2 separate regions of the Homo sapiens genome follow, and region 2 is linked to region 1. The links come from fine-mapping of genetic effects on gene expression. Tissue or cell type: monocytes. Region 1 holds a variant in brackets; the other region holds the start of a gene. All regions are shown on one strand. Distances are between the middles of the regions. Region 1 overlaps RABEP1 (rabaptin, RAB GTPase binding effector protein 1). Region 2 holds the start of RABEP1 (rabaptin, RAB GTPase binding effector protein 1).

Region 1 (8,000 bases):
ATCACTTGAATATGGGAGGCGGAGGTTGTAGTGAGCTGAGATAGTGCCACTGAACTCCAGCCTGCGTGACAGGGGAAGATGTCGGGGGAGACTCCCATCTCAAAAAAAAAAAAAAAAAAGGACGAAGCTTTCATTTAAATTGTAAATATCAACAATATAAAATTTTATCCTTCACATCTTTTCAAGCAAAAAATTTTAAACATCAACTTTAACATGTATGAAGGTTGTATGTAAGTATATATTTTACAGAGTTCATAAGTTAAAAAAGGTGCATGATCACTAGTCCAGAACAGGATTTTTCAAACTGTAGTACTTGAACTAGCAGTAACTGGAATCATCTATGAGCTTATTAGAAATGCAAATTTCTGGGCTCCACCCAAACATACTGTGGTTTAACAAGCTCTCCAGGTGATTTTTATCCACATTTGAATTTGAGAGCCACTATTCTATTATAGACTAGAGCAGTTTTCAAAATTTAGTGTGCAGCTGGACCCAAATCCCACAGTTTCTAACTCAGTAAATCTGGGTGGGACCCAAACATTTGCATTTCTAACAACTTTCCCAGGTGATGATGACGATAATGATGCTGTTCCACAATCACACTTTGAGAATCACTGGTCTAGAGAGCTGTGGAAACTACATTCACATTATTCTAGGTCGATACTCAGAAGGTAAGCCCCTTCCCTGATCCTTCAAATCAGGTCCCCCAACATGTTCTCTCATGTATTTTCCTTATACAGTTTCTTTTTCTTTTTTTTTTTTTTTTGAGATGGGAGTTTCACTCTTGTCGCCCACGCTGGAGTGCAATGGCGCAATCTCAGCTCACCTCAACGTCTGCCTCCTGGGTTCAAGCAATTCTTCTGCCTCAGCCTCCCGAGCAGCTGGGATTACAGGCATGCGCCACCATGCCCAGCTAATTTTGTATTTTTAGTACAGACAGGGTTTCTCCATGTTGGCCAGGCTGGACTTGAACTCCCGACCTCAGGTGATCCGCCCCCGCCCGTTGGCCTCCCAAAGTGCTGGGATTACAGGTGTGAGCCACCGCGCCCAGCCTGCAATTTCCTGTTTTAACGACTCATCACACAATTACTTAACATCTGTTTTGCTCATTGAGTTCAACCAAGTTAAAGAACCACATGAATTTTCCTCTTTCTGTATACCCAACACAAGTATAATGTCTGCCTCATAGTAGATATTAAATAAATATTTATTGATAAATAACTGAATATTTGTTGGGTAAAACTGATGTTTCATGGAATTAAAGATAACATAGCTAAAGCTGTTATTAGAATGCCAACAATCCTAGTTTGCCCACAACTGTATCCCAAATGTTAAGAGCAATAACATTCTCTTATCTCAAGGCTATGCAACCTAAATATGAACAGTAAGATCAAAAAACAAGGCAAAATCTGAAGAAGGCATTTTTCAACTTGTTTTTCAATCCCATTCTTAACCTAGCCTTTAAACAGTATTCTTTTATTATGCAAGTACAAATAAAATCAAGGTTTATTCAATGATAAAATTAACACTACTACCAAGAAACTCAACACTTTAAGGCAGTTTTCGCATTGAAGTTGGTGCGAGACTTATGAACTTACCCTCTTTAGCCAAATATAACTCCTTAAATTTTGCTCTCTTTTGATTAAATTCTTGTTCAAGCTGCTGTTGTGCACGTAAAAATTCTGCATTAATTTTTTCCAATTCTGCTACCCGTTGCTGAAGAGAAACTGGGGGAAAAAAACACTAGTTAACAAGTAATAACTTTTATTCATAAATTTATAAAACAGTAAATTAGTATTCTAGCTGTACATTGCTATACGTGAAACAAGTAGTCAAGCTTCTTCCAAAAATCCACCATATGCTAGGATATTCTAATGTTTAAAAAAAGTAAGACAGACCAGGCATGGTGGCTCACGCCTGTAATCCCAGCACTTTGGGAGGCCGAGGCGGGCGGATCACCCGAGGTCAGGAGTTCGAGACCAGCCTGGCCGACATGGAGAAATCCCATCTCTATTAAAAATACAAAAATTAGCCAGGTGTAGTGGCAGGTGCCTGTAATCCCAGCTACTCAGGAGGCTGAGGCAGGAGAATCGCTTGAACCCGGGAGGCGGAGGTTGCAGTGGGCCGAGATCGCACCACTGCACTCTAGCCTGGGTGACAGAGTGAGACTCTGTCTCAAAAAAAAAAAAAAAGATCCTTGTATTAGACTTAATACACAACTGTAAATGAGTCATGTAAAGTGAAACCACAAATATACAGAGAATCACATAAGGCCAACTTCCCCACAAAAAAAAGAGCTTCTAAAGTGCCTTTGTGCAACTGAATAGCAATTTAATTTTAGAACTGTTAAATATTGGATTATTTGAACTACTTATCCCACAAATGAACCTACTGCCAATCTTGCTATTTCCCATTTCTCTCAAGTGTCACAAGCAAAATCTAATAGGTTCCCTAACTAGTGTAGCCATACCAGACTGAACTATTCTTCCAACTTCAAAATGATCCATTACCATTATACTGAGATCATAATCAAAAACCCATTCATAGAGAGGATACAGAACTGCACATTCTATATAAACTCTCAATTACTGGGAGATAATCTGGTTTTCTTCCATGTTTTCAACATTGATCATGGTGTGCGGAGATTAGCAGACTTTTTACTTTATGGACTCTATAATTTGGACACAGCTGGTTAAATGATTGCCTTCCCTGACCAAACCCAGGGGTTCCTTTGATTGAAGCATAAGATAGGAGGTCCAGCTGTGCAAACCCCTGATCTCCCCTTTTGCCCCAACAGCATCCCAGCCTTAAAGCTATGACCATAATCCCTTTAGGGGATATCGGTTAGTACTAATCAACCACTAACTACTTAGGCCAGCAGAGGGCCAAGTTTCCTACTGCAAGTCACTCCAGATAATGATGATTTGCCTAGAATTTTAATCAAGATCTGAGATTATCTTTGAAGGCTATCCCCTCTCCCAATCACTCAATTTAATTGAGAGCTGATTTTAAAATGTATAGAAAAAAAGACTGGAAAAAATGTACCAATGATTTATCTATGAGTAACAGAATTATGGCTCATTAATTTCTTCCATATGCTTTTGAGACGGAGTCTCCCTCTGTTGCCCAGGCTACAGTGCAGTGGGGCGATCTCGGCTCACCGCAAATTCTGCCTCCCAGGTTCAAGCAATTCTCCTGCCTCAGCCTCCCAGTTAGCTGGGACTACAGGCATGTGCCACCACGCCTGGCTAATTTTTGTATTTTTAGTAGAGACGGGGTTTCACATGTTGGTCAGGCTGGTCTCTAACTCTTGACCTCAAATGATCCACCCACCTCGGCCTCCCAAAGTGCTGGGATTACAGGCATAAGCCACCGCACCTGGCCTTCCATAAGCTTCTCAAAGTTCTCTTCTATGCAGATATGTATTCCTTTGACAATGAACTAAAACCAACACAGATGGTTCAAACTGATGGTTTCACTTACAATTTTTCCACTTTATTATGGTACTCATACAACCATTCTCTTTTTTACTTTCAACTTTCACTAGAGGATTCAATAAATTACATGAGATATACAACATTTTACTATAACTTGATAAATGTTAGCTGTTAGCTGTCATTATTAAATTGGTGGTATTTATTTAATGAGTAACAAAAAAAAGTAGCAATCAAATGACCTTGTATATAGCCAGAAAAGACCAGAAGTCACTTCCAACCTCATGATTCTGACTCAGTTCCATGCTTAGACTTCCAGCTTATACCCTCCTCTATTATCATGTATCTTTTTTTTTTTT[C/TC]AGACAGAGTCTCACTCTGTCACCCAGGCTGGAGTGCAGTGGTGCAATCTTGGCTCATTGCAACCTCCGCCTCCCGGACTCAAGCAATTCTTCTGCCTCAGCCTCCCGAGTAGCTGGGAGTACAGGCACATGCCACCACGCCCAGCTAATATTTGTATTTTTAGTAGAGACAGGGTTTCACCATGTTGCCCAGGCTGGTCTTGACCTCCTGACCTCAGGTGATCCACCCACCTCGGCCTCCCAAAGTGCTGCGATCACAGGCATGAGCCACCGTGCCCGGCCTACCATGTATCTTTATAGCATCGTGAACAAACTAATTACCATAATGCCAGCCTTCAACAATATTAAACCTTCTGAAATTTACAAGGCTGAGAATGTAAGTATGCCAGCCTTTGTCAACAATAGGCTTTCTGTTAGAAGATTTTGCCCAGCTGCAGGCTAATATAAGCATTCTGGGTACATTTAAGGTAGCTAGGCTAAGCTATGATGTTCCGTAACTTAGGTATATTAAATGCATTTTATGTTATTTCCAATTTATAATGGGATATAGCCCCATGGTAAGTCGAGAAGCATCGCTATGTGTTCATTCCCATGAGACCTTGAAACTAGCCTCACTATAGATTTAATAGTGTAAGTGCAATCATTGCCGAAAGAGGATGACTGCTGGTTTGAGTTCCATGTCACTAATGGTAATTTTTGAGGAACTAACATGTAGGGTCTCTAAGTCAAAGCACTGACTTCTGGTCAACTGAAGGTTTGATAACTTTGAGAAAAAGAGGGATGAGAAATCCACTGGAAGGAAAATGTGCAATTATCTCATATTACCCTTTGAAATCATGAAAGAAATCTGTTCTCTGTGCTAATTCTGCTGGTATTTTTATTGTTAAATCCACATTGTTTAATAAGTTAAACAACTTTTCCACTTAACACTTTAGTATTACTGGTAGCTACTGATTAGTACAGAGGTAACAAAGGGCTCTGGGGAATCAAGGAAAGAGAAAAACCAAAATCCCTCTGTTCTTATTTTTCTCTAATAAGATGTATCCCCTCCTATCCCTACCTTCTACCAAAATGCACACATAACCGAAACACCCATACCCCTCAACATTAATATATTTATAATTAGGAAATGAGGCAAATGAATCAACAAAACAAAAATGCAGCTGTTAAAGATGCAGCCAAGATTAAGTATGTTTCCATTACTCCCAACCCCTTCATGGCTCTGACCCACAGTTTAGACCCACTCTATACCCACAAAGCCTGGCTCTCTCCAGGCTTCAGGACAGTGTTCAGTTCTAGAAATCATGATCTTTTGAGAGTATATCGAGTAATTGTCTTATTTTATTTTTAAGAAGTGATCATCCACCTCAAGTACTTCTAACATACTGCAATTCTACAATATAGAAAGACAAAAAAAACTGCTTTTTACAAGAATGCCTTTACTACAACATCGAGACAAATCGATTCACTCTCAATATGAGAAAGTTTACAAATAAGCATATCCTAATGCATTAGCAACCAACCACAAATCAAGGAGAAAATAGCTCTCATCACACAAAATGCTGTATTATTTTTTATAACATGGTAACTAATAGGTCACTATCATTAGCTAATAGTTCATGTAAAAAGTACTTAGTGTGGCATATAGAACAAACTTGATAAGTGTTAGCTGTCATTATTAAATTGGTAGTATTTATTTAATGAATAAAGAAAAAAAGTAGTGATCAAATGACTTTGTATGTAGCCAGAAAAGACCAGAAGTCACTTCCAACCTCAAGATTCTGACTCAGTTCCATGCTGAGACTTCCAGCTCATATCCTTCCCTATTACCATGTATCTTTATAGCATCATGAACAAACTAATACTAATTACTGTAATGCCAGCCTTCAACAAAATTAAACCTTCTGAAATTTAGAAGGCTGAGAATATCAGTATGCCAGCCTTTGTCAACAGTTCCACACATCCCGTATTTGTTGCCTTCATTTGAGCAATAAGAAAAAGGGAGAAATTATCTAATCCATTGCCTACTTTTTTTTTTTTTCCTTGAGACAGAGTTGTTGCTTTGTTGCCCAGGCTGGAGTGCAGTGGCGCAATCTTGGCTCACTGCAACCTCCATCTCCTGGGTTCAAGCGATCCTCCTGCCTCAGCCTCCCAAGTAGCTGGGATTACAGGAGCCTACCACCATACCCGGCTAATTTTTTTGTATTTTTAGTAGAGACAGGGCTTTACCACATTAGCCAGGCTAGTCTCGAACTCCTGATCTCAGATGACTCACCCGCCTCAGCCGTCCAAAGTGCTAGGATTACCGGTGTGAGCCACCACATCCAGCCATGCAATGGCTACTTATAATGCTTGACATCCAAAGGGAAAAATGACTATGTCACTCAATTCAGAATGTCTCAAATAGCAACAGCAATACAAAACGAAAAAAGAATACAATAAATAAATGGAGTAAAGACCTAATAATAATTTTGATATAAACAAGAGAACACGCAATAACTTAAAATATTTCTAAGACTCAAGCTGTGTCCTACTACTACGTTCCTCTTACAAGTAAAACAATATAATAAATTTTTATTTATTTTTTTTTTTTGAGATGGAATTTCGCTCTTGTCGCCCAGGCTAGAGTGCAATGGTGCAATCTCGGCTCACAGCAACCTCTGCCTCCTGGGGTTCAAGTGATTCTCCTGCCTCAGCCTCCCAAGTCGCTGAGATTACAGGTGCCCACCACCACTCACAGCTAATTTTTGTACTTTTAGTAGAGATGGGGTTTCACCATGTTGGCCAGGCTGGTCTCAAACTCCTGACCTCAAGTGATCTGCCCGCCTTGGCCTCCCAAAGTGCTGGGATTATAGGTGTGAGCCACCACACCTGGCATCTTTACACTAAATTTGATAAAGACATAAGCAATGTGAAATTTACTACGACCAAAACCTTTTTGTTTAATGATGTTCAAAATCCAAGAAAACACCTATTTCAATCAATTTACAACAAAAAATAACTCCAGTGGGATCAAAGAATCTGAACAGTTCCTAAAACTCATATGTCTTATCTTGTTTCTCACTGGATTTTAAAATAAAACTATTGGACAGGCACAGTGGCTCATGCCTGTAATCCTAGCACTTTCAGTGGCCAAGGCAAGTGGATCTCTTCAGGACAGGAGTTCAAGACCAACCTGGTCAATGTGGCGAAACCCTGTCTCTACCAAAAATACAAAAATTAGACGGACGTGATAGTGCGTGCCTGTCATCTCAGCTACTTGGGGGACTGAGGCACAAGACTTGCTCGAACCTGGGAGGCAGAGGTTGCAGTGAGCCAAGATCGCACCACTGCATTCCAGCCTGGGTGACAGAATGAGATCCTATCTCAAAAAAAATAAAATAAAATAAAATAAAACTATTAAGTATGGTAGGTATATCCTACCCATCCTACATATTCATTCAGTGAAGTAATACCAAGCCAGAAAAAGTTATATTAAGTAAATACATTATACATAGCACAGTATGAGCTACACAAAAATTATATAGAAAAAAAGACTGTAATGAATATCCAAAATGGCATTCAGAGTAGTAAAAGAATTATGCTGATGAGATTTAAATCAAAAGGCAATGAGATGCTTTATCTTTCTTGTTTTAAGAATTATTTTATTGCTCTACCTCAATCTATTTGCTCATAAAAAAGTATTCATAATTTAATGGTCTTAAAATATTTCAACACAAAAAAAATCATTTTTTAAATTTTGCTCTTAAGAAACTCACAGTCTATAAAATCATTTTTTAAACTACACTTAAGATTTTCCTAGCCAGGCCCAGTGGCTCACATCTATAATCCCATTACTTTGGGAGGCCAAGGTGGGAGGACTGCTTGAGGCCAGGAGTTTGAGACCAGCCTGGGCAACAGAGTGAGATCCCATCTCTACTAAAAATACAAAAATTAGCCAGGTGTGGTTGTGTGTGCCTGTCGCTTGCGCCTGGGAGGTTGAGGCTGCAGTAAGCCAAGATGGCACCACTACACTCCAAAAAAAAAAAAAAAAAAAGTCTAAAAAATTAAAAAGCTTATAAGGTAACTTTATAGACTAAGGTAAGCTGGCCGGGTGTGGTGGCTCATGACTGTAATCCCAGCATCTTGGGAGGCCGAGGGGGATGGATCGCCTGAGGTCAGGAGTTCGAGACCAGCCTGGCTAATATGGCAAAACCCTATCTATACC
Region 2 (8,501 bases), 24 kb after region 1:
AAAGACACAAATTTAAAACAAATGACATCATCCAGAGCTTGTAGGATTACAGGGGAAATCCACCTGCCATATATCGTTGGCAAGTATGTAAATTGATGCCTTGGAGAGTAAGCTAGCAACAGGTATTAAAATTTAAACCACTCGGAACTCATGCCCTTTATTTAATTCACTAGTCTTACAGAAGTAAAAGAGTACCTTAAAAAATATGCACAAGGACATCCATTACAACACTGCTTATAAAATAATTAAAATTTGAAAACAATCTACTTGCCCCACAATAGGGAAATAGGCCATAAATCATGCCTGGTACATGCATATGATAAGATCGTCTTTAAGAAGAATGAAGAAGGCCTACAACACTGACCTGGAAGTAGTCCATGATCTAGTACATAAGCCAGATGGCATGGATTTGAATCCTGCTCCCCCACTTAATAGCTGTATAACACAGGCACGTTTCTTTAACTTCTGTGTGCTTCAGTTTCCTCATCAAGAAAATAGAAGCAGTAATATTCAATAGTACCATTGCTATGAAGATTTCCTAAGATAATGCCTATAGTGTTTGCAGAACATTACATGGCCATATAACCATGAGTATATAATATGATAGCTAACATTTATTAAGTGAGATAGGGAAGTTGCAGACTTATGTATGTAAAGCATGTCCTTCAGGGGTAAAAGGTAGCATGTCTGTGTAACTAACAGGAAACAATCAGGAATCCAGCCTGGCCAACATGGCAAGAATAAAAAATAATGAAGTAGGCTGGGTGCAGTTGCTCATGCCTGTAATCCCAACACTGAGAGGCCAAGATGGGAGAATCACTTGAGCCCAGGGGTTCAAGACCAGACTGGGCAACACAATGAGACCCTCTCTACAAAAGAAAAAAAAAAAAAAGAAAAAAAGTGAAGTAAAACCAGAGCAAATGCTTCAAAGATATAGTTGAACTTAGATTAAAAGAAATACTAAAATTAGAAAATTTTCATTTTTAAATTCTCAAGGGAAAACAGATCAACTGAAATTTCTTTAACTATTAAAATTACCTGTATTCCAAATAAGTAAACTAAGATGCAGTATCAAAAACCCAAAACTTTTTTTAACTTACAAAATAATTACAATGAATAAAATGATTACATTTCATCCCTTCGATTTACACACAAATCGATTTTCCTAATCTACCATATGGCCATGAAAAACAGACAATATTTTTTTTTTTTTAAAAAGTCATCAAAGACAATCGCTTCTGAAACAGGATAAAACAAGATAAAGTCAAAGACTAAGCAGTTAGTTATCTTTCACCACCAGTTTGACACAAAAGAATTCTGGCGATTTTTTTTTTTTTTAATCAGCAGGACTAGGAAATTCAAACGTGCCTAAAGCTAAAATGGTCTACATGAGTTCAGCTAAAGACACAAATTAAATCCCCAAAAGCCGGACTCACGGGCTCACACCTACAATCCTAGCACTTTGGGAAGTGTAGGCAGGTGGATCCCTTGAGTTCAGGAGTTTGGGACCAGCCTAGGCAACATGGCAAAACGCCGTATCTACAAAAATACAAAAATTAGCTGGGAATAGTGGCATGCACCTGTAGTCACAGCTACTTGGGAGGCTGAGGTAGCAGGATTGCTTTGACCCCAGGAGGTCGAGGCTGCAGTGAGCCAAGATCGCGCCACTGCTCTCCAGCCTGGGCAACAGAGTGAGATACTGTCTCAAAGAAAAAAAAAAAAATTAAAATCCCCAAGATGAACTTCTAAGGCACTGACACAAGGCACTCAAACGTACCAAATTATCTCTCTCCTACTGTAAAAAGTAGCCATGGCTACCTACATTAATTTAAAATAAAAATTGCAATCTATGCAAACTAAATCTCATCCTAGAGTCACAAGATTTGAGAAATAGGAAAGAAACCTGAACTAAAATACCAAGAATACAAGATTTCCTAAAGCTAGTTTTCCCTAGCCTCGTTCAAGTGCTTAGTCACTTCTGCCTATTTACAAGGAAGACCATTTCATATCTTCAAAGAGGCAGGGAATTTTGATTCCAGACGGTCATGTCACCTGAGCTGCCCTAGACGTTTCTTTCCATGCAACTCAAGAGAAGGCAGCAGCCAGCTATGCATACCTACCACTCCTGTTCAGAACCACAAGCTCTCTGTATCTTGCCTCTGTGTGCAGTAACAAAGTGGGATTGTGGAAGAACAAAGTTTTCTTGCCTGACACCAAATGCAAAAGGTGATCATTAAAATGCAGCCTGAAGACATCCCAGTTTCCTCTCTCTGACAGCCCACCAAAAATGCTTCCCTTCCCTTCTCCTGGAACAGAAACAGCAAAGCAGGTTCTTATAAAAGTCTAAATGCTTACTGGACATCTCCCCTTAGGCAAGCAACAACACCCAAAACTACAGGCTAACAGGCTCTGAAGCACATTTCCCAGAGAGCAGCCAGAACCTTAAAATCTGATAACATGGTTTCAAGTTCCCCAAAGGCAAAAATAAAAAGTAAGGGTTTCACGAAAGGTTATTTTGAGACAACCCCAAGGAAAGCCAAGTTTTAAAGTACCTACTCCGTACCAAGCCCCTTTTCCCAACATTCTACTCTACTCACACTTAAAGATGCTAAGCACACACGCTGATTATAGAAATACACCAGAAAGTACTTTCACAACTAGATACAGTGGGACCTTGGAAAAGCCCAAGCACACTATTTCCAAACATCTATTCTAGGTGGTAAAACCTGGAACCATGTAGTCAATCTGTGAAGCACAGCTTAGTCCAATTTCCCAGAAGGTCACGAAGGGCTCTGACAACCAACTTTGATTATTTAGGATGGGGCCCTTTTTTCCTTCCAAGAATATAAATGACACATTTCTTCGACTTCACTTTTTTTTTTTTAGTTCCACAAGCAAATATCTTCAAGTAGTGCAAGTAGGCCTCAGCATTCTCAAACACTATTCTCATTATTCCTAATACCTCCATAATACTATTATTGTATATACACATTCGTGTTGCTATTTTTATAGATAAAATATAAAGGCATGAATTAACCTCTTGGTTAATTCGTGGGTGAGAATACTGAGGCTCAACGAGGCTAAGAAATGAGCCCAGAGCTTGCTGGTTAAGAATACAGGTCCTCTAGACTCCCAGGCCCCAACACTTAACCATTAAGCCACACTGCCATTCAGGGAATGCTACTAAATCCAGTTACTGTACACAACTACTTTCAGGTCACATAACTGGGTGCAAAGAGTTCTATAGCAAGGATTGGGGCGGCAGGGAGGGTACACTACCTAAGCTAAGATTTTTTTTCTTTAACGAATATAGCACATGTTCCCGATTTCCATCCTCCCCCACGGGCAGAACCCACGTGCCGGTCCCCCGCTACCCAGAACCGCTCCCTCCCCACACTACCCCACGCTACCCAGCAGCCTCCCCACGCCCTTCCCTCTGCCCTCCCGCAAGCGCTGCACCCGCGCCTCCCGCCCCCTCCCCAGCGACGGCAGCCGGGGCGCCCGCGCCGCCCTCGCGCGCCGCAGCCCGCGCGCCCCCGCCTCCGCCCGGCGGGGTCACCCCCGGGGCCTGCGCGCGCCCTTGCCGCCGCCTGCCCGCCCCGAAATCCTCCCGCGACGCCGACGCCGGGCAGGCCGCGCCCGCCGCGCCTGCCATGGTGGGCGCCTCACCGTCAGGCTGGGAAGCCGGGCCCGGCTGCGCCATGACCAGGCGGCCGGCCTCGGGGAGCGGGGATGGGCGGGGAAGCGGCGTCCTGGGCTCCCGCGGGCTCAGCTGGCGGAGGAGGCGTCAACCGAGCCGCCGCCGCCGCCGCCCAGAGAGAAACCGCTAAGGCTGGATCCGCCGGCGCCGCCACAGCCGCGGGCAGAGACGGACCCGACCGCCGACCTCCGCCTCCTCATCCTGACAGCGGGAAATAAGCAGTGCGCAGGCGCAGGGGGATGGGGCGGCACGTGACGTTGGCCCGAGGGGAGGGGCGGGGCCTCGGGAGCGCGGAGGGAGCGCGGAGGGAGCGCGGAGGGAGCGCGGAGGGAGCGCGGAGGGAGCGCGGAGGGAGCGCGGAGGGAGCGCGGAGGGAGCGCGGAGGGAGCGCGGCGGGAGGGGAGGGTTTCGGCGGAGCTGGGCGCCTGACCCAGCGGCGCGGGGAGGCTGAGTGCCGAGCGGAGCTGGAGAAGAGGGGCTGCAGCAGAGGCCTGGCCTCTCGAAGGTGCCGGTCCCGGTTCTCCACCCCAGCACAGTGAGGGGAAAAAAAAAAATGAGTAAGAGAGGAGGACCGATGGCGGGGTGCAGTTCCAGCCTCTACCTCTTCTAGCTTTGCGACCTTGGGAGAGTCACTTCACCTCTTGGAATTTTTATCAATATAATGGCTAAGAAAAGTTTAAACGAGGTAATAAAGTATGAAGAACTGTTTCCGACAGTACTGGGCCTGGACCCCAGGTCTTCTGGTGCAGAGGCCAGTATACTATCCATTCAGCAAATACGTTTGGGTTTTCAGTCGTGATAGATGCTGGAGATACAGCCAGGTACAGACCCTGCACTCATGGCAGGAAAGGAGAAATCATATACACAAAGTGTGGCCCTTATACTTGGGCCCCTGGGCCCTATACTTTAGGAACTCCCCTCTAATCACCACTCCCCGTCTGATTTCGACACCTGGAGTGCCCCATGCCAAGGAGGTAGTTTAAAAAGCTTTTTTTTTTTTTTTGGAGATAGAGTCTCACTCTGACACCCAGGCTGGAGTGCCATGGTGCGATCTCGGCTCACTGCAACCTCTGCCTCCCGGGTTCAAGCAATTCTCCTGCCTCAGCCTCCCGACTAGCTGGGACAACAGGCGCACGCCACCACACCCGGCTAATTTTTGTATTTTTAGTAGAGACGGGGTTTCACTATGTTGGTCAGGCTGGTCTCAAACCCTTGACCTCGTGATCCGCCTGCCTCAGCCTCCCAAAGTGCTGGGATTACAGGCGTGAGCCACCGCGCCCGGCCTAAAAAGCTATTTTGAAATCAGAGAGGAGCATCAGGAATTATGTACATTTTAAGACCCAGCAATCCCACCCCAGGATGAGGGAGTCCACAGGGTTTGGCACTTCAGGACCAAGTTCTGAATACTTGTGGCCCCAGAATTCCCTTTCCAGATGGCTGAAGCTGTGGTCTCTTTCCCAGATCCATTCTCTCTATGGCAGAGTCTAGACATCCCTAAAAGAAGCTAAAGTGAAAGCATAAAGAATGAGTTCATGTCCTTTGCAGGGACATGCATGAAGCTGGAAACCATCATTCTCAGCAAACTAACACAGGAAAAGAAAACCAAACACCTCATGTTCTCACTCATAAGTGGGAATTGAATAATGAGAACACATGGACACAGGGAGGGGAACATCACACACCGGGGCCTGTGGGGGGTGGGGGGAAGGGGAGGGAGAGCATTAGGACAAATACCTAATGCATGCGGGGCTTAAAACCTAGATGACGGGTTGATAGATGCAGCAAACCACCATGGCACATGTATACCTATGTAACAAACCTGCACGTTTAGCACATGTATCCAAGAATTTAAAGTATAATAAAAAAATAATAATAGGCCGGGCACAGTGGCTCACGCCTGTAATCCCAGCACTTTGGGAGACTGAGGCAGGTGGATCACGAGGTCAGGAGTTCAAGATCAGCCTCTCCAAGATGGTGAAACCCCATCTCTACTAAAAATACAAAAAATTAGTCGGGTGTGGTGGCAGGCGCCTGTACTCCCAGCTACTCGGGAGGCTGAGGCAGAGAATTGCTTGAACCCAGAAGGCGGAGGTTGCAGTGAGCCAAGATCGCACCACTGCCAGCCTGGGCGACAGATCGAGACTCCATCTCAAATAATAATAATAATAATCAGAAAATCCACTAATTAGAATCAGTTTCTACTTTCTTTAAATCATTTGTTTTAAATAAGGTATACTTTTATTAAAATGATTATTTCTCACTGAAAAAAAGGGAGGCTAAAGGGCAGCTTTGTTTTATTTTAAGGGGGTGACACGACACTTGGGTGTTTGAGCTCCTATGTCCACAGATCCCTCATGGTGCAGGACAGAGGTGAGAAAAGAAGGCAAGTGAGCCAAGAGACAATAGTTGGGCCAGGGCCTGTGCTGCTTTCGCCACCTCATTCATGGGCATAACTCCCAGGAGCCCAGGAATTCTAAATTTAAACCTGGTCTTCCAGGTCTTAAACAGGTAGATTTGTCCAAGTAGAAGGATAGACTGTATTAAGGTTAGCGGTTAATTGGAGTAGTTTGTAATTTTATTTTATTTTATTATTTATTTAATTTTTGGAGACGGAGTCTCTCACTCTATTGCCCAGGCTGGAGGGCAGTGGCACCATCTCAGCTCACTGCAACCTCCACCTCCCGGATTCCAGTGATTCTCCTGCCTCAGCCTCCTGAGTAGCTAGGATTATAGGCGTGTGTCACCACGCCCAGTTAACTCTTGTAATTTTAGTAGAGACAGGGTTTCACCATGTTAGCCCGGCTGGTCTTGAACTCCTGACCTCAAGTGATCTACCCACCTCGGCCTCCCAAAGTGCTGGGATTACAGGTGTGAGCCACCACGTCCAAACTGGTTTGTAATTTTAAATAATTTAGGTATCTATTTGTACTTTTGCCCCAGGTCCTGCCATCGTTAGAGGAGAGCCAAAATACAGACTCGAGTTTTTTGAGCAGTTAATGTCTCCCAAATGGCTGGTGTGCATTTGAGAGAGCAAGCAGGGTCTCCCCAACACCCTGCCCAACCCCCCATAAATGATTTTCCTGGATGAGCAAATCCATGCTTACCAGGAAGACCTTTGGCCAGGATAGGGCAGCCCAGTGCATCCTCTGTATTGTTGTGATGACTAACACGAGGCATAAGCCATAAAGATAGCAGATGCGGCCAGGTGTGGTGGCTCACGCCTGTAATCCCAGCACTTTGGGAGGCCGAGGCGGGCAGATCATTTGAGGTCAGAAGTTCAAGACCAGCCTGACCAACATGGTGAAACCCTGTCTCTACTAAAATACAAAAATTAGCCAGGCGTGGTGTTGGGCACTTACAATCGGGAGGCTGAGGCAGAATTGCTTGAACCCAGGAGGTCCAGAGGTTGCAGTGAGCCAAAATTGCACCACTGCACTCCAGCCTGGGCGACAGAGCAAGACTCCCTCTCAAAAAAAAGAAATAAATAAAAATAAAATAGAAGGGGCTCCTTCCAGTGAGAGAGTGGCAAATTTGTTGCCATTGATAATGAGGCTTGAAGCCAGGCCCTCAAGTCAAGGTCCCTCAGAAATGGTCAGGCATATGATTTGGACACCTAGGGCTCTCCATGTGAGGGAAGTAGTTAAAAAGCCATTTTGAAATCAGATAGGAGCATCAAGAATATTGAACATTTTCGTATTTTTAGGTAAACCTTAAGACCCAGCAGTTCCACCCCTAGGAATATATTTTAGGAAAACAAATGTATGCTCAAAGTCTTTACTAAGTATAAAAGATGTGATTCTTATGTTCTGAAGGAAATTGGGAATAAGACATAAACACATGAAATAATTAGTTACCAATGACATTGCCCATGTGCCCCAGGAGACACACGAATATTCACAGTGGCATAGTTCATAATACGATAAATAAAGGACTCATATGTTCATCAACAGTGGACTAGATTTTTAAAAAGTTTTAACATACAGGGCATCATGGCGGGTGCCTGTAGTCCCAGCTACTGGAGAGGCTGAGGCAGGAGAATGGCGTGAACCCAGGAGGCGGAGCTTGCAGTAAGCCAAGATCACACCATTGCACTCCAGCCTGGGCGACAGAGCGAGACTCTGCCTCAAAAAAAAAAAAGTTTTAACATACAATGGAATATTCTACAGCAATGAAAATGAACAAACTGGCCAGGTGCGGTGGCTCACGCCTGTAATCCCAGCACTTTGGGAGACCGAGGCGGGCGGATCACGAGGTCAGGAGATGGAGACCATCCTGGCTAACACGGTGAAGCACCGTCTCTACTAAAAATACAGAAAATTAGCCAGGCGTGGTGGCGAGTGCCTGTAGTCGCACCTACTTGGGAGGCTGAGGCAGGAGAACGGCGTGAACCCAGGAGGTGGAGCTTGCAGTAAGCGGAGATCGCGCCACTGCACTCCAGCCCGGGCAACAGAGCGAGACTCCGTCTGAAAAAAAAAAAAAAAGAGCAAGTTCTGTGGAACTGATAGAAAGCATTCACTCTATGTTTCATTAATATAGTCACACAGTGTAGATTATAGGAACGGACGCATCTCCTGCACATTATCCTGATTGGGTCACATCAGCAATGTTGGTTCTGTGCACCATTTTTTGCAGGGACACTGACCAGCTGCAGTGGATGGAGACCCAAGGAATGAAGTATCTATCCAAAAGTTTCTGTGCAAAATACATGGAAATATCAAAGAAAGTTACACTAGGGGTAGGAGGGTAGATGACTTGGGCCATGAAGATTGTCCTCAAATCCCTGGAATACAGTGCATACAGA

The links. PIP is the estimated chance that this variant, and not a neighbour inherited with it, causes the effect.
Region 2: RABEP1 starts here. The variant in region 1 is fine-mapped to the expression of RABEP1 in monocytes (Quach 2016, PIP 0.95).

Annotation. Positions count from the first base shown.
Region 1 is chr17:5,302,421-5,310,420 of GRCh38, reverse strand. It overlaps RABEP1 (rabaptin, RAB GTPase binding effector protein 1), which reads right to left. Exons shown (of 18, transcript NM_004703.6): 2 at 1,599-1,727. Among named protein-coding and RNA genes, the nearest start is that of RABEP1, 24 kb to the right of the region's middle. The variant C/TC (reference allele first, on the strand shown) is at 3,794.
Region 2 is chr17:5,277,689-5,286,189 of GRCh38, reverse strand. RABEP1 (rabaptin, RAB GTPase binding effector protein 1) reads right to left here and starts at 3,906. Exons shown (of 18, transcript NM_004703.6): 1 at 3,670-3,906. The coding sequence starts at 3,703. RefSeq lists an enhancer at 1,101-1,619 and a silencer at 3,467-4,186.